4 linked regions of the Homo sapiens genome follow. The protein of the gene in region 2 purifies or fractionates together with the protein of the main gene of each other region. This does not show direct contact. Each region holds a gene or a part of one and is shown on either strand. Other genes may lie near its edges.

Evidence for each region. The genes of interacting proteins can lie anywhere in the genome.
Region 1: the proteins of TAGLN3 (region 2) and CLIC4 fractionate together in Homo sapiens (co-fractionation; one large-scale study listed by BioGRID). This does not show direct contact.
Region 3: the proteins of TAGLN3 (region 2) and FKBP1B fractionate together in Homo sapiens (co-fractionation; one large-scale study listed by BioGRID). This does not show direct contact.
Region 4: the proteins of TAGLN3 (region 2) and UFM1 fractionate together in Homo sapiens (co-fractionation; one large-scale study listed by BioGRID). This does not show direct contact.

The regions. Positions count from the first base shown.
Region 1 is NC_000001.11:24,842,044-24,845,724, forward strand, and holds the end of CLIC4 (chloride intracellular channel protein 4), read left to right. Parts: 3' UTR 1-2,278; downstream 2,279-3,681. UniProt on the Homo sapiens protein: In the soluble state, catalyzes glutaredoxin-like thiol disulfide exchange reactions with reduced glutathione as electron donor. Can insert into membranes and form voltage-dependent multi-ion conductive channels.
Region 2 is NC_000003.12:111,996,801-112,002,380, reverse strand, and holds the start of TAGLN3 (transgelin-3), read right to left. Parts: upstream 3,460-5,580; 5' UTR 3,267-3,459; intron 3,135-3,266; exon of another isoform or gene 2,961-3,134; 5' UTR 2,959-2,960; coding exon 2,779-2,958; intron 1,610-2,778; coding exon 1,435-1,609; intron 1-1,434.
Region 3 is NC_000002.12:24,056,151-24,060,643, forward strand, and holds part of FKBP1B (peptidyl-prolyl cis-trans isomerase FKBP1B), read left to right. Parts: intron 1-4,493. UniProt on the Homo sapiens protein: Has the potential to contribute to the immunosuppressive and toxic effects of FK506 and rapamycin. PPIases accelerate the folding of proteins. It catalyzes the cis-trans isomerization of proline imidic peptide bonds in oligopeptides.
Region 4 is NC_000013.11:38,356,261-38,360,753, reverse strand, and holds part of UFM1 (ubiquitin-fold modifier 1), read right to left. Parts: intron 2,662-4,493; coding exon 2,622-2,661; intron 1,454-2,621; coding exon 1,421-1,453; intron 714-1,420; coding exon of another isoform or gene 688-713; exon of another isoform or gene 44-687; coding exon 1-43. UniProt on the Homo sapiens protein: Ubiquitin-like modifier which can be covalently attached via an isopeptide bond to lysine residues of substrate proteins as a monomer or a lysine-linked polymer.

The DNA of each region.
Region 1 (3,681 bases), on a different chromosome or scaffold from region 2:
TTCACCCCATTTACCTTGTATAGAGGATTGTTCATTCCTTTGGGACTAAGTTATAGTTATGGTGAGTGTGTATTTACTGTAGTTTTGCCTGATCTCACTCATTGCACTTCCTGGAGTTAAATTTTCCAACAGCCATGTTGAGGAATAGCACTCTGCATGTTTTTGTTTTGTTTTTCGGGGTTTTTTTTAATTGAAGCCCTAAACCAGGAATTATTTGTGTTCTAACAGGAGGATGAACTTGCTGAAAATAAAACTTTGCTATGTATTTACTCTTTTTTAAAAGACAAAAGCAAAACCAGACTTTCTACGTACTACTCCAAAGACTGTGATTGTGACTATAATACATTTTTGGTAATTTTTTTATACCTAATTTGTATAGGAAGTGCTATTTCTCATAGGCTGTTTCTTGAAATTTTAAGTTTATTGCTTTAAAATGGCAGTGTTTCTCCCACTTTGATATGCTAACATTTAGTAAGCACTGGCTTTATGAAAGCGGCTTTTTATAAGTATACTGCATTTTTTGAGCCTATCATTAATTAGCTTAGTATGAAAGATAAGAAAATCTCCATGTTGTATCCATTTGGCTCAGGAAGATTCTTTGCCTTACCTTTCTTAGAACTCTTTATTGCTTATCAAAAGTTTGAGTACCCGCTTGGTTTTTTTTTGGTAATTAAATATTGTATGATTTATCTGGTTCAAGGAAGATGCACTATTCAGTTATCTATTGAGAAATTATTTTGCAGTGGTTTTAGTGGGTGAAAATGTCCCATCTGCACCAGTACACAGGCAGGCATTATCATTCTTCACCTACTTTTTAAATAGTGGCAACTTGGGATTCATTCTGGTGATTCTGAACCTTGCCTCATAGCTTAAAGTATAAAAAAGATTCAAGAGCAGTGAGGTTTGTTCTTTCCAGTGAATGGTGGACTGAGTGGTGCGAGGTGGAGGGCTAACAAGAGGAAAGAACTACATTCTTCAGAATACAGTGATGAAAATTCATTTTGAAACTCAAATATTTTCATTTTGGATATTCTCCTGTTTTTATTAAACCAGTGATTACACCTGGCCATCCCTCTAAATGTTCTAGGAAGGCATGTCTATTGTGATTTTGATGAAGACAGAATTATTTTTCTCTGTAGAAACACAGATACCACTTTATCAGGGAAGTTAGTCAAATGAAATGGAAATTGGTAAATGGACAAAAGCTAGCTAGTAAAAAGGACGACCCAGCAACATGCTTTAACCCCATTGTATGTTTGTGGAAAGAGCATAGTTTAACATCTTGAGAAATTTGGGACATAAAGTTTTCATGGTAGACAGTTCATGCAGTATATGAATTGCCATAATGGAAATAATCTGATTTTATTTTTACAACTAACATCCATTCCCCTTCATTTAAACACCTTTTGTGTTTTACTTCAGTGAGGAGATTGGAGTCTGAATGGATCTGTTTTCCAAGAGATTCTGAGAAATTTTTGTATTCAGCAGTTGGAAAGCTCTCTATTCTAGTTGATAAAACTTCCCTTTTTTGATGTAGATGCAGATATTCTATACAGTTCTGTTGTCTTTTACTAGGACTGTAAACTTTTGTGATAAAATTCAAATAAGATTTTATTTCTTGGTAATTTTGGCTTTCACAATTTATCTTTAAATCCTTGAGCAATCTGTATACAATTAAGAGATTTCTGACATTTATTCTTACACTAAATGGATCAACTCTAGGATTTAGGCATGTTAACTTCTGTTGTGTTTTGAATCTCTCCAGAGTTGCATGTAGATAGCATTTATTTCTGTGCCCTTAAACCCATTTAGAAAATAACTACAAAGTAAAAATGTAGAGGAAATAGAAATGTATTTTTTCATGAACATTTTGATACAAATTTCATCATTTAATGATTCACCAATTTCTTGCATTAATTTGAATTTAAGCATTTAATTCAAAGAGAGGGGAGCATCCATTATTGATACATGTGGGCTTTTAAAAACTCCATCCTTTATAAATAGTCAAGGTTTGGGCCACACAAAGTATATTTTTATCATGGAAAAATTTCAACTCCTCAAGCCGTAATGTTGAACAGAATTGGAGTATTTTCTTTATAATTTCTTGAACAGGCAAATGAAAGCTTATTATAGAATGCATGTATTTTCTTTTATCTTTGGAACATCAGCACCAGTATATTGCTGGCAGCTATTGTATTAAAAAATAAAGTATATTTTCACTATCATAAAGGATTCTTTTTTCCCCCCTCATGAAAATAAACAACAACTTGGGGTAAAAGTGTTTGAGACTACTATTTTTTTTTCTATGAGTGATTCAGCACATTTAATAGGTTAAAGGAGAAAAACCATAGGATCATTTCAATAGGTACAGAAAATAACTTGATTAAAATATTCATGCTACTCATTCTTAGCAAAATAGGTAACTTTTTTTTTAACCTGATAAAGACTTTTATTGAGAACCTATAGCAAATGAAACAGAAGCGATCTCGTTAAAGTCAAGAATAAGACAAGGTTGCCCTCTATCACAGCTACTATCCAGCTACTTTAACAGCTACTTTATTTAGAGATATCCTAGCCAATGCAGTAACATCAGTGAAAGGAATAAAGAATGGAAAAGAAGCAACAAAATGACTGCCCTTTGCAGGTAATGATGTTGATGGTGTGTATGTGTATAAAATCCAAAATAACTTACAAATACTAAAAATAATTCAGCTGGATTTCTAGTTGCAAGATCGAGGAACAAAATTTAATATAACTACTATATACAAATAGTAAGCACATTGAAAGCCAATAGAGAAATTGGTAACATTGGTTTTTTTCTGGAGGAGAATTGGGTGCCTGAGGTAAAGGGGTGGGAAATTATCAATGTATACTTTTAAGTTTTTAGAAATTGGTAAATATATTACCTATTCTAATAAACAAAAAGTGCTTTAAAAAACGAATAAAGATCCTAAGTGATTGAGGATCAAATCAAACAATGTGCAATTCCTAGCCAAGCATGGTGGCTCATACCTGTAATCCCAGCACTTAGGGAGGCCAAGGTGGGAGGATTACATGAGGCCAGGAGTTCAAAACCAGTCTGGGCAATACAGCAAGACCCTGTCTCTACAGGAAAAAAAAAAACAAAAAACAAACAAAAAAAAAAGCCAAGTGTGGTAGCATGAGTCTGTAGTCCTAGCTACTCGGGAGGCTGGGGAAGGAGGATCTCTTGAGCCCAGGAGTTTGAGGCTATAGTGAACTATGGTTGTGCCACTGTACTCCAGCCTGGGTGACAGAGCAAGACCCTGTATCTTTTTTTTTTTTAAGTGCAATTCTTTATGGAGAAAAGTACAAGACATTATTGAAAGGCCTGATAGAAATTTGTTCAATGGATAGGCATACCATATTTATGGATGGAGAGCTCAAAAGCATGAAAATTTAAATTCTGACTACTTATAAATATATTTGCCAACAAGATCCTAACAGGTGTTTTTGGAAACTAGATAAATGGATTCAAAAATTCATGTGGAAGAGTTATGCCCCCAAATAGCCAACATATATTTGAAGATGGGGAAAGAGAACTTGTTTGACAAGATACCAAGACTTAATAAAAACTTACAGTAATCGATGGGTAGGATATAGGTCACAGCAACACAATACTACTGCTGCAACAACCATAAAAAACTATTAAAACACCAAAAT
Region 2 (5,580 bases):
GACACAAGAAATCATGGGCAAGCTTCAGTATCATCATCTTTGAAATGGGGAAATTAAAAAACATTTACCTCATAGGATTGTTAGCAGAACTGACTGACATTATGCAATAAAGCACTTGTACAATGCCTTGTGCATAGGAAAACATCAATAAGCAGTAGCTATGTAGCTATCTGTATTAGCTAGAAAAAATCATCATAGTTTTGATCGAGGAAGCAAGGATCAAATCTCAACTGTGAAATTACATGAGAATTTGGAGGCTCAACAGCAAGATCCATAGCCTGGCCTGGCCTGCAGTTTTGAATATCTGAGTTTCTAAATAATGGCAAACCACAAGGTAAACTTATTAGCATCGTAGGATTTTAACCACTCACCTATGAGGGAAACATGCAATGCCAGCTCTTTGCATGACGCCGAGGATTAAGGAGGCAATTGTTTCTTTATAAATCATAGTGTGGTGAGTAGTAGAATGGTCCTCTGCTAGAAATCTATTTCAACCATCATCTGAATACCCTTTAAAATACCATGTCTCTCCATCAGGGGAAAGCTACCCCATTCTCACTCTCAGCAGAGCCATTTGGGTCACTGCCCTGGGGATCCTGTTGGTTGGGCCACTAATGACAGCCAGTGACAAAGAGCATGTGAGAGCAGAGTCAATCTGACAGTCCTGCTCTGACTAGTTGGTATCTCTTGGTGCCTCAGGCAGGCCTAGTGGAGAAGGAACACAGTCATATGGTTGGGTATACACATTTTCGCTAAAGGGGACATTAACGACACCATGACCATAGGTCCCAAATTCTCTGGCAGTGTCTCCATTCACATCATTTCCCCCAGTAATGGCAGATCATTAAATACATCCAGGAGTGTGATTTGATTTTTATGCTTTTGTAAGATTTCCTCAGCAAGTCAATTCACAAATGTGAAGGAAACAAGCACTTGTCACACTGAGCAGAATGCATATCTGGAAGGCATAGTCACCAAGCTCCCAGATAAAGGTTTAACAAAAGGTTGGAGTGCTATCTATTTCTCAGATTGACAAAATAGCCCCAGATGGCTTTGTCTATAAGCTGCAGTTGAGCAAGAAGCACACTGGCCCCCTGCCTCCCTTCTCCTCTGGTAGCTGTGATTTGTTATGGGAGTGGTAAGAGGAATAAAAGGCAGTATGTCACCGTTAGCTTCCTCTAGCTTGAGGCTTCTGTTTACATTAGTTGCTGAGATCCCCTCTGTGTCCTCAGGGTGTGTGTTCCATTAGAAGAGGGTACCTCCTTTTAATAGAACATAACAATGGGGAAGGCAAACACTGCCCCCAGGATAACAGCTGAGAGCATCTTACACACATCAATCGGCACAGGGAAGAACACTGTGAGCAGTTTTTACAAGGAGATGGGGCAAAGGAGAGAAGAAAAGAACAATCCCAAAGGCCAGGGGGCTGTTTACCTTCCCATAGATCCACCGTCTGAAAGATGTCGGTGGTTCTGACACCATAGGTCTCCGCAGCTTTTAGGAACTGGGAGATTTGCTCCATCTGCTTAAAAGCCATCTTTGACTCTGAGATCTTGGGTATGGGCTCTTGTCCTGGTGGGTATAAACTATTTATCAGCTTGCACAGGACCTGAAGAGGGAGGGGAGAGACAGAATCAATGTTTCCCTTTGTATTTACAGGTCAAGAATGAGAAGTGAATCCTGCTCACGTGGGACACTGCTCATCCAGTTTGGGCAGGAGCAAGTCATGGGCCCTAGGAAGGCACGGGCTCTGGGCTGTGTAGCCAGGCTCCTATACTAAGCCCCAAAGACCCAGAGGACCCCATTCCTAATGCTGCTCCTTACTACAGAGATTCCTGTAGCCTGGGAGCGCCATTCCCTCCCTGTTCCTCCCTTCCTTTTTCTGGATGAGGGAAAGGATGTTTACAGATAGGGAATGATGTGACGTGATGAGGACGTGATTCTAGACTTTCAAAGGAGGAATGACTTAGTGGCTCCTGAGGTTGGCAGAGCTCAAATGATAGAGTCTAATATTATTTCTTCTATCAAAAGGCAAATTAAGCAGGCTTCAATTTACTCATCCCATATATTTTAACAATGTGTAAAAGAAGTGGATGTGGTACCTTTTTCCCAGATATATATATATAACCCAAGCTCTGGGCAACCCAGCAGAAGCATTGGATAGCAGTTATGTAACAGTAAATCACAGACTGCAGGAAAGGATGGGCTTGTTTGAATCACAGAGCCTGCGGCCCTCAAACCCTCAAACACACACGAGCATTTGGTCAGAAATGCAGTTAACAAATAAGGACTCCTTTCAGTTTCATGAGAACGCATCCACTCAATAAACAGACACTGAACACTTCCAGGGTGCATGGCTCCCACAAGAATGTGAAGGTGGCTAGTCCCCCTCCTCCCTTCTTTGTTTTACTGTGTAACCAACACGATCCCCTAGGGAAAGAAATGGCCCCAGAAGAGCTGATGCACCAGGAAGGCTGGGGAAATTACAAGGACATACTTATCTCTATTCTCATTAGAAAAATCAAAAGGGCTTCGAATTTGCCAACTCAGAAGGGAGATGTAATGCTAGGGTGAGTGGAGAACCCCCAAGCTAGCTAGGGAATAGTGCATGGAGCCCAAATCTTCCAACCCTGAAGAAATAAAGGCATTCTCATCCCCTCCCGGTGAGACATAGAGCTTGGCAACAGCAGCTCTTCCCGCAGCCTTACGTTAAAAGAAAGGGCCCTGGAGGGTTTCCCTGCCCACCGCCCCAGCAACCGAGATCGCTGCCGGCCTTACCGTCCCGTCCATTAACCATTTCTGAAAATGGGCCCTGCCGGGGGGCGGGTGCTCTATGTCCTCGGCGCACTGCAGGATGATCCAGTCCACCAGCTTGTTCTCCAGGTCCGCATCATACTTCTGCTCGATCTTCTCCTGCACCTCTCGGCTTAAGCCATAGCTCGGGCCCCTGTTAGCCATCTCTGGAAAGAAGAGAAGACACGCGCGGCATCCACACAATAGCAGCAGCAGCAGCCTCCGGCTCCCTGCAGACGGGGCTGGGATATGGCTGGGCAACCTGGCCCAGCAGCAGCAAAGAGGGCAGAAAGCCGGGCGTGGTTTAAATCAAGGAGCCAATGAAGCCAATGGGGTTTCACCTACAAACGGGAAAGAAAAGCACAGCTACCCGCCAGTAACTCTAGAATAAACCTCCGGCCGGTCCAGGGGGGCTGGAATCCCCCTCCCTATCCCGCCTATCAATGAGACCAGATGATATAACACGGACTCACAATCAAGTCTGAACCCCCAGGCAGCAAGGGGGATGGGTGGCGGACGTTTCTTCCCCCTTCTCAGTAGCACTTTGCAAAGGCAGAAACGATGAGATCGGGAAGAGCAGGTAATTAGCAGGCAGGGAGGAAGCCTCCTTTCATGTTGAACTGCAGCCGCTGCTGCCTCGCGCCTGGAAGAATGGCACATTGATTTGATTTTCTCATGGCTGAGGGGGCTCAACCAGGGCCGTTGCTAAGAGCCCTCCAAAAAGCCAGCCCTCTCCTGTGTCAATCAAGCCCGCCTGCCTCCCTCCCGCTGAGAGCCTCTTTCTCATCTGCACAATTCTTTCCCTCTTCTGGGGAGACAGCCGATTGTCTACGAGGCCAGCAGCTGCACAAGGGGATGAGGGCCTGTGGGAGGGTCCGTTCTACCAACTGTCCATCTGTCGGGAATAGCCAAGCTACTTTCCCCCTGCCCTGAGGTAACAACTGTCTGGCAGGACAGGAGGGGAGGGACTGAGAGCTGCTATCATTTACTTGTTCAGCTGCCAGCCCAACTTCACCCAGAAACTTCCATCCTGAAACTGTTGTGCCTCAGTTTGACTTATTCAAGGGAGGTATTTTTTTCATGCTACTCTTAACTGAAAGACACTAAGAACAAGTTTTATAAATTATTATTATAATTCTTACTATATATTTTTAGACAGAGTCTCGCTCTGTTGCCCAGGCTGGAGTGCAGTGGCACAATCTCGGCTGGCTGCAACCTCTGCCTCCTGGGTTCAAGCGATTCTCCTGCCTCAGCCTCCCAGGTAGCTAGGATTACAGGTGTGTGCCACCAGGCCTGGCTAATTTTTGTATTTTTAGTGGAGATGGGGTTTTGCCACGTTGGTCAGGCTGGTCTTGAACTCCTGACCTCAGGTGATCTGACTGCCTCGGCCTCCCAAAGTTCTGGGATTACAGGCATGAGCCACCACGCCCGGCAAGTTTTATAAATTAAACAAAACTCAACGACTAAGAACTCTTAGAGTGAAAGGTTTTGATAGAATGTAAAGACTTCATCTGAAGTAAGGACCGTGAAGGCACAACCGACATATTGTCAGAAGTAACTGAATATTTCTCATGGGCAAACAAGCACTCAGGAGAAACCATTAGCTCTAAGTTGGCCCCACATTTTTATAACAGCTAAAGGGCTTGGCAGTTTGTCCTCCTAGACTGTAAGCCATTTGTGGGTAAAGATTGAGTCTCATTGGTGTTGTGTAATTCTCTGGGTGTTTTTCATGAGAAAAATTCCACATTTTTTTTCGTTTGGTTCATTTCTTCATTCAACAGATATTTACTGAGTGTTTATGCCAACTACTGGACTGAGGAGGAATAAAATACAATTCTTGCATTGAAAACAGATTGATAAATTGACTCAAGCATATTAAATAAAGCAATTCTGGGTACATGGGATGATGATCTTTGTCCCTGTGGGAAATTGATTAGAAGCTATGCAGGAAATGACTCCTCAAATAATACATGTATTGAGAAAAATCTCCTACCGGCTGATGCCTGGACTAATGAAAATTTAATTACTTAGGAGATATGTGGGTGGTTTGCCTGAAAAAGACTTAGCGGTCAGTCGTTGAAGGCCTGGCAGACAGTCCTCTGAAAACAGAAAACTAGGAGATTCAGGAGAGCAGTAGGTTTAGGAAGAGACAAGGGAAGGGCTGACTAAGGCAGGTCTTGATGCTGCATGGAATCATCAGTTGAAGAAGCTCAAAAGACAGCAGCACTGTGTTGGGACACTTGGAGCTTAGGGGAAGAGCTTAGAGCAGGGAAATTGACAGAAGAATTATGGAAGTCATCATTGGTATCTTGGGGAGGAGCCATAAGGCTAGTTCCAACCTTAGACTAAGGGAACGGAGTCCCAAACAGAAACCACATAATTTTTTCCATGGCTGGAATGGCTCTAAGGAAGTTGTTGGTTTGATATGCAAAGCTTGAAACAATTCTAAAGATGTACATTTGCTTGACTTTTTTTAAACACTGTGTTTTGCAAATCTTTTGTACCCAAAGAGTCCCTCATATTATAACAGAGTAGCTGGTGTGCTTTAAGTGAATGACTGGGCCCATGCTTCTAGAGAGGATACAATGGCAAAGAGAGGGGCCACAGCAGGGCATGGAAGTGTCCAGAAATCCAGAGGAAGTCTTCAGAGAAAAAATGCTTCATCTCCTCAGGGGTGACAGTGGAAATCAGCTCAATGCCACATTTACTAAGTGCCTACTAGTATTATAGTTAATGTTTTCAACAACTTTTTCTTTCTTTTTTTTTGATTCGGAGTCTCACTCTGTG
Region 3 (4,493 bases), on a different chromosome or scaffold from region 2:
GGCTAATTTTTGTGTTTCTAGTAGAGACGGTGTTTCACCATATTGGCCAGGCTGATCTCAAACTCCTGACCTCAGGTGATCTGCCTGCCTCGGCCTCTCAAAGTGCTGGGATTACAGGAATGAGCCACCACACCAGGCTTTGTTTTGGTTTTGGCCTACTCTGGTGAGCGTTCAGTACCATTTCATTGTGGGTTTTTTTGTTTTTTTTTTTTGAGACAAGGTCTCACTCTGTTGCCAAGGCTGGAGTGCAGTGGTGCGATCTTGGCTCACTGCAACCCCGCCTCCTGGGTTCAAGCGATTCTTGTGCCTCAACCTCCCAAGTAGCTGGGATTACAGGTGCGCACCACCACACCCAGCTAATTTTTGTATTTTTTGTAGAGATGGGATTTCACCATGTTGGCCAGGCTGGTCACTGTGGTTTTGATTTGTGTTTCCCTGATGATGAATGAAGTTGAGCACCTTTTCATGTGCCTACTGGCCATTTGGATATCCTCTTTAGACTGCTCTAATTTTGTCCATTTTAGAAAATTAGGTTGTCTTTTTCTTTTTCTTTTTTTGAGACAGAGTTTCACTCTTGTTGCTCAGGCTGGAGTGCAATGGCGCAATCTTCACTCCCTGCAACCTACACTTCCCGGGTTCAAGTGATTCTCCTGCCTCAGCCTCCTGAGTAGCTGGGATTACAGGTGTGTGCCACCGTGCCCGGCTAATTTTGAGGTTTTTAGTAGAGACAGGGTTTCGCCATGTTGGCCAGGCTGGTCTCAAACTCCTGACCTCAGGTGATCCACCTGCCTCGGCCTCCCAGAGTACTGGGATTACAGGTGTAAGCCATGGTGCCCGGCCGGTTGTCTTTTTCTTGTTGATTTATAGGAGTTTTGTATATGTTTTGGATATGAGTCTTTTGTTGGTTATATCTATCCCAAACATCTTCTCCCACACTATGGCTTGCCTTTTTACTCTCTTAATAGTATATTTTGAACAGAAGTTCTTTTTTTATAGTTTATATTTTCTTCTTTTCTTTCTTTTTAAAATTTTTTTCTTTCTTTTTTATTTTTGAGATAGGATCTCACTCTGTTACCCAGGCTGGAGTTCAGTGGCTCTAGTCTTCAGGGATCATGGCTCACTGCAGCCTTGACCTCCTGGGTTCAAGGACTCCTCCCATGTCAGCCTCCCAAGTAGCTGGGAGTACAGGAACATGCTACCATGCCTGGCTAATTTTTTTTTGGTTTTTTTTTGTGTGTGTGTGATGGAGTTTTGCTATCGTTGCCCAGGCTGGAGTGCAATGGCACGATTTCAGCTCACCACAACCTCTGCCTCCCAGGTTCAAGCAATTCTCCTGCCTCAGTCTTCCGAGTAGCTGGGATTTCAGGCATGCGCCACCACGCCTGGACAATTTTGTATTTTTAGTAGAGACTGGGTTTCTCCATGTTGGTCAGGCTGGTCTCGAACTCCCTACCTCAGGTGATCTGCTCGCCTCGGCCTCCCAAAGTGCTGGGATTACAGGCGTGAGCCACCGGGCCCGGCCACCTGGCTAATTTTTAGTTTTTCTGTAGAGAGGAAGGTCTCCCTATGTTGCCCAGGATGGTCTCAAACTCCTGGGCTCAAGTGATCCTCCTACCTTGGCCTCCCAAAGTGCTAGTATTACAGGTGTGAGCCACTGTACCTGGCCTGAACAGAAGTTCCTAATTTTGATGAAGTCTGACTTATCAATCTTTCCCTTTATGGTTAGTGCTTTCTGTGTTCAGTTTAAGAAATCTTTGTCTGTCAGGCCAGGTGCGGTGGCTCCTGCCTATAATCCCAGCACTTTGGGAGGCCAAGGCAGGTGGATCACCTGAGGTCAGGAGTTCGAGACCAGCCTTGCCAACATGGTGAAACCCTGTCTCTACTAAAAATACAAAAATTAGCCAGGCATGGTGGTGCATGCCTGTAATCCCAGCTACTCGGGAGGCTGAGACAGGAGAATTACTTGAACAACCCAGGAGGCGGAGGTTGCAGTGAGCTGAGATTGAGCCGCTGCACTCCAGCCTGGGTGACAGAGATGAGACTCTGTCTCAGGAAAAAAAAAAAAAAAATTGTCTCTAGGTCATGAAGATATCCTTCTATTTGTTATCTTGTAGAAGCTTTATTATTCTATCTTTCATATTTAGGTTTATGATTCATCTGGAATTGATTTTTTTGTGTGTGGATTTGGTAGGGGTTAAAGTTCATTTTTTCCCCATATGAATATACTGTTGACTCAACAACCTTAATGCAAGAAAAAAAAACCTTTATTTGCTGCATTGCAGTGGTATCTTTGTCCAATCAAATCACCATGTAAGTGGGTCTGTTTCTAGACTGCATGGTTTTGGCTTAACTTGTAGCAATAGATAAATGAAGTTATTTATCCAAAGTAGATTAAGTCACATGAAACCTGAAGAAACTAAGGAATGAGAAAGGAAAGTCGGTATATAAATGGAGTGTGTGAATGTGTGCATGTGTGTTTGCATATCTGTGTGCATATTTGTACAAGTATGTATCTGTGTGAATGTATGTAGATCTGTGTATGTAAATATTTTCTTAGCATCTATTTGGCCACCAGGGCTTTTCTCCTGAGTGTGAGTGCATAAGTGCATGTGAGCATGCACAAGTATCTTTGTGTATTTGAATATCTTAGCAACCTTAGCAAATGCATGCGATTGTATTTGATCTTGTTAGCATCCATCTGCATGTACCTCTGTGTAGCCAGAAGGGTTTTCTTCTTTGCCTCAGTTAGTACCCAGGGCAAAAGCTTAATGTATTCTACTCAGAAAGTAGTTAAATAAGACTGTTTCTCTAATATATATTTTAGTTGTAGGAATTAGGAAGTAGCATCATAGATGCTCCTACACTAAGCTGGCCCTGCTTCCTATGTTAAATATGACACATCTGAGGCCCTGGGAGAGGAAGTGATTTGCCCAGTCTCACACAATGAGTTAGAGCCAGAGTGAAGTCAAAACCCAGTCTCTGGATGTACAAGCAAGGTCTTTTTCTAGTCCCAAATGGCCTTTTGTGGTGGTCCAGGGACTGCCGGGAGCAGTCGTGGAACTGCATCATTTACAGAAGGTCTGATCTTTGAGTCAGAGTCACAGAAGAATTGAGAATAGCTGTTGGGCCTTGGGCTGCTGGACTGAGATGACATGTGGACATCAGGATGACAAGGCTTCTGAAGCAGAGGCTGGGGGAACCAGAACTGCTGGACCAGCACCTGGGGGGGGGTTCTGGTTTCAAACAGCCCTCTTAGTACAGAGTCTGGAGGCCACCTCTGACCAGCTAGGTCACCTTACACTGTTCCCTACAGTAGGGGATAATGTAACCTTTGGGTTTTCCCTTTTGGGGGAAACTTAGGAAACCTTAGGAACCTTATGCGAGGACTCAACCTGAGGCTGGAATAGCTGGGAAAACAGAACTTTAGGTGGAGGAAGTGGCATAAAAAAGTTGAAAAGTCTGGCTGGGCATGATAGCTCACACCTGTAATCCCAGCACTTTGGGAGGCTGAGGTGGGCAGATCACCTGAGGTCAGGAGTTCGAGACCAGCCTGGCCAACATAGCAAAACCCCATCTCTACTAAAAATATAAAAAAATTAGCAGGCATAGTGGCAGGTACCTGTAGTCCCAGCTACTCAGGAAGCTGAGGCAGGAGAATCCCTTGAACCCGGGAGGCGGAGGTTGCAGTGAACCGAGATCACACCACTGCACTCCAGCCTGGGCAACAGAGGGAGACTCCGACTCAAAAAAAAAAAAAAAAAAAAAAAAGTTGAAAAGTGCAGAGGAATTTGAGAAAGGTATGACCTGAAAAGGACACAGAGGGAAGGGAAGGAAGGGGAGAACAGAGAGGGTTATAAGCAGGCCAGAGCCGGATTGTGAAGTGCCTGTATGCAAGGTAGGCATTTGGATTCTGCTCTGGGGAGCTATTGAAGTATTTTGAGCAGGGGAGTAATAGAATCAGATTTGTGTTTAAAGAAAAAAAAAAATCAGTCTGGATGCCAAGTGGACAATGAAATGGAGGCGAGTAAAAGAGGATCAAAAAGACCAGTTAGGAGGTTGTTCCTGTGTACAGGTGAGATAAGCTGGTGACTTGGTCGTGGTAATAGAAACAAAGAAAAGGCCAGGCACAGTGGCTCATGCTTGTAATCCCAGCACTTTGGGAGGCCAAGGTGGGTGGATCACCTGCAGTTCAGGAGTTCAAGACCAGCCTAGCCAATATGGCAAAACCCTGTTTCTACTAAAAATACAAAAATCAGCTGAGTGTGGTGGTGGGCGCCTGTAATGCCAGCTACCTGGGAGGCTGAGGCAGAAGAATCGATTGAACCCAGGAGATGGAGGTTGCAGTGAGCCGAGATTGTGCCACTGCACTCCAGCCTGGGTGACAAATTGAGATTCTGTCTCAAATAAATAAATAAATAAATAAAAATAGAAATGAAGAAAATAGGTGGATTCCAAAGATATGGAGGACTTAGTGATAGGCAGTATGTGGGGGT
Region 4 (4,493 bases), on a different chromosome or scaffold from region 2:
GGAATAATCCGCAGTTCTGAACCATGTTTTAGAAAAACATTTCCTATACAAACAAACAAAACATAAAGTTAGATATCTAAAAATCAAGTTATCTTAATATTCTGACAATTATTAAATATAATAAATGATTTAGTAAACAGTAAAATGGGTACAAAAGCTCAAGCATCATGAGACCCCAATTCCAAGCTTTTTAAGTCTTGTTCCTATTCTCCTATCTTCACAATCCAACATACGCTTAAAATTTAAAATAACACCAGCCATGAAAACTCTGACGAATACTTTCATCAAGTAACTGTGAATAATTTAATCATGAATACTTCCTTCAATACACAATAATATATCTAAGGACAGGAAAAAAAATGTAAATTACTACAAGTGACAAAAATTTAGATACCCTGACATATTTGGGGTCAATTGCCTGATGAGATTTTCTTCATATCAAGGATATGCACATTCAATTTTTAAAGATAATAAAACAAGCAGTATGTTAGAGTTAGCAGTAATTCAAACTACTGTAAAATATTGAAAGTTTCTCGATTAAGAAAAAAAGAAACCTTTGTCTACTAAGTTTAAAGGCATCCATACAATAAAGTGCCTCACGATTTTCAATAAACCTTTTTAATAAAATTATATATTAACAACTACTGAAGTAACAAAAATTTGCAATTTTAAATCACTTCATTTTCTTTATGGCTGAATTTCAACTGCAAGGCCTGTGAAAACAACATAATTTTGTTACAATAAAGAAATACTTTAGAATATAATTTAAAAATAACTACTGCTCTAGAATGAGGTTACATTAAAGCATGCCTAATTTTAAAACTTTAGATTATAAGCCTAAGAGATTACATTTTAAAAATATAAAACTAATTTTAAAAAAGTTTTAGACTTCTTTTTATAAAGTATGAGACTACTTTTACCCTGTCTCCTGGTCAGGACACCAATATATCACCTGTATAAATTTAACAGTTTGAAGATCTGAATGTAGACTCAGCCCCTTGAAATGTAAATGACTATATTTAAAAAAAATAATAGCACTTAATGAATGCTTTCTATAAATAATCCAAGCTATGAAGCACTTTACAGTCACTATCTCACAACTACCTTAAGAGGTAGGTCAAAAAATACTCCAATTAGAAAGCAATCTTATCTACAGACTTTTTGTTATATATAATAAATACTCTTAATGCTTAAGCCACTATTAGGTTTTCTGTTACTTGTAGCCAAAAACATCTACAATCAATATACACAATGAAACAACTTATTACTCAGACACACAGGTAAAGACTGGTATATAATCCCTAAAAAACAGCTCCATTATGTTAAAATACTGTCAAGTGTAATTAGAATAGCTTAACTATTCAGTGTCAATTGACATATATAACCCCACCCACTCCTCTATGAGTTTTCAAATACTCACCAGCAGTCTGTGCAGGATTTATTCCTATTCCATCTAGAAAATAAGTTGTAAAATCACATACATTATTTCTAAAGCTAAAATGGTTAAATAGTAGCAAGGAAAGAGATTTGCCAAAATAGTGCTGTTGTGTATATAGACATAAGCCAAACACTTTAAATCCAAGAACACGAGTGACAATCTTTCAGGTAAATTATCTGTTGAAATCTACTATTATTCTGCATTCATACACATTGCTGGGTTAGACAAAAACGTCTGTCAATGCAATGATCCTGGTAAGTTCTATGGAATATAGGTTATTAATTCTATTTTGCCATATAGAATTAAAAATAATGTTTGTCCTTTCTTCCAAAAAACTAAAAAGCCCCTTAGGTATGCCATGAATCATCTTCGTATTGTTCTAGGTCATAATATCTTAAGGCTGGGAGAGCTCACAAAGTCATTTAGTTCAACACGTTACTAAGTTATGACCTAAAACTTTCCAGGTAGTAAGCCAGCTTTTTTCCAACAGAGAAACACTTCAATGTGACAGAATGCAGAATATTTTAGAGTGAGAAATTCTACCTTATCTAAGTTACATCACGCACATTAAGCCCATCTCCTGTCCAAACTGCACTTGGGCAACGCATCAGCACTCATCAATACTGCATTGTATACTTGAAACACAGTTAAGCCCTCCCTGCAATCTTTACTCCTCATCTTATTATTTCACTATTTTCTCACAAGACTAATTCCATCATCATTGATTATCAGTGTTCCAAGATATTAAGATTTTTAATTATATACCTAAAACGGAATAAAATTCTCATTATTGCAAGCCTACAAGAAACAATTTTCTATCAGGAAAGGTATAGCAAAGATACATTCCTGCTTAACTTTCTATATTCTAAAGCATTTACCAAACAACTTTACTTAATAAAAAAAAAAACTTGCTAAATAAAGTTATTTTCAGTTATAATCTGGCATGAACTGGTAAGGACAAAAGATATTATAAAGTGCTATACTATATCAAAAGCTATATACAAAGAAATGAAAGGAGCTAATTATTAACAATAACCCTGACTTAGTGTTTACCAGTAAGTATATCATTTATGTTGATATACATATACTTGGGGCTTTTTGTATTTAATTTTAATTAATTTGGTTCCTTTTACACCATTTCTATAAATTTGAGGTAATACATAATTTTATAGTGAATTCTTACCATTGGTAATAATTGCACTTGTTGCAGCAGGAACTTTAAACTAAATAGAAGGAAAAAAAAATATATATATATATACACACACACACACACACACAAAACTATAAGATAATTAGCAAGAATGGGGTACAAATACCAATTCTATAATTCTAAAGTAGGATTAATCTTTTAGAATAAGTGAAACTATCAAGGAAAGTACAGCTGACCCTTGAATGACATATGCAGATTTTCTTCTGCCTCCGCTACTCCTGAGACAGCAAGACCAACCCTTCCTCTTCCTTCTCCTCAGTATATTCAACACAAGACAAGGATTAAGACCTTTCCCATGGTCCACTTCCACTTAATGAATAGTAAATATACTTTCTGTTATGATTTTCTTAGTATTTTTTCTTTAACGTTATTGTAAGAATACAGTATATAATACACATAACAAAATACATATTAATCGCCTGTCTGTGTTATCAGTAAGGCTTCCAGTCAACAGTAGGCTATTAGTAAAGTTTTTGAGAAATAAAAAAGTTTTATGCAGATTTTCAACTGCACAGGGGGTTGGAACCCCTAACTCCCACGTTATTCAAGGGTCAACTGGACTATATCATATGCTTTATCTGTAAAAAAAAAACCCTGTATTATAAACAGTGCTTTTGATTGTATTTAGGACACCATTAATTATAAAAGTGTACCTTATATTATACATTACAAAAATGAAAAACCACTGTCAATTTATGCCCAGATCAATGTTTACTCTTTAGGACTTATCCATCAATTTTGTCATTTATAATTCTCTTGAACAGCAAAAAGTACATGCAAAATAAACTGATGAGATTATTCCTAAAATTTCTCCATAGAAATTGCAAGATCTGAACAGATGCTCTCTGTGTTTAATGGGAGGTGCCTACCGAAGATTTTCAGGTAACAACCAAGGCTTGTATTCCTTACATTCCTCTGTAATGATTTGCTGATTTAAAGCTCAAGGATTGCAATAGTCCAATTATGTCATTAGGAAATAATAATTAAGTGTAGATGATGTTACCTAGACAATTAAGTGAAAGCCATTTGGCCAACAGTGATAGCAAGCCTCCCCTGATCTATTTCAGAGATGTTTAAAAAGATGTGTTTTTTAAATCAATGAAATGTGGTATGGAATTTATTGGTAGCTAAAAGGTAGATTCCATCTCTTAAAGAGACCAGCAGTTGCCAAAGTGTGTTTATGTCTTCACAGTTTATGCATTTATCCAACAAATTTAAGCATGTTTGTGCTATGGACTAACTTTATAGATATTATAGTTGAGTTTTGTGATCAAGTTTGGAAAACACATTTAACTAGTGGTCTTCTCAAAAGCCTTTAATATACTCCTAACAGAAATGAAGTGTTTCTCGTATTTTTTGACCAGTAATCCCTGTTCTTCATGAAGTTTTTTTTTTTTTTTTTTTGGTGGTACTAATTTGTGTGTGGTTCTAGTTGTCTGGGAAACACTACTCTAGGCATCTATAATCATTACATATACATAGTTGAGAAAAACTAAAAGCTTATTTTAAATTAGAAATTGAAGAATCAACTTTTAAAATAAGGCCTTAAACATACCTGAGAACAATTATTTGTTATAGTATTATGTACAAATTAATAATAAACACATTTTAATCTCAATGTGGTACACTCTTGTGTCCTTTTAAAGATTTTAAAATTTTTAAAGAATTTCAAAGTGTACTTAAGTAAACTTAAAAATGCATCACAAATATTTTGCACAGGCTGTAATCTCAATAAGAATTTGATCAAACACTCAAATGAACTATATAGGCCTCTCAGATTTCCAAAGCTAGAGTACTACAAAGTTTTTAGTTACCCTACTGATTGAGTCTTTTACATCATGCCCA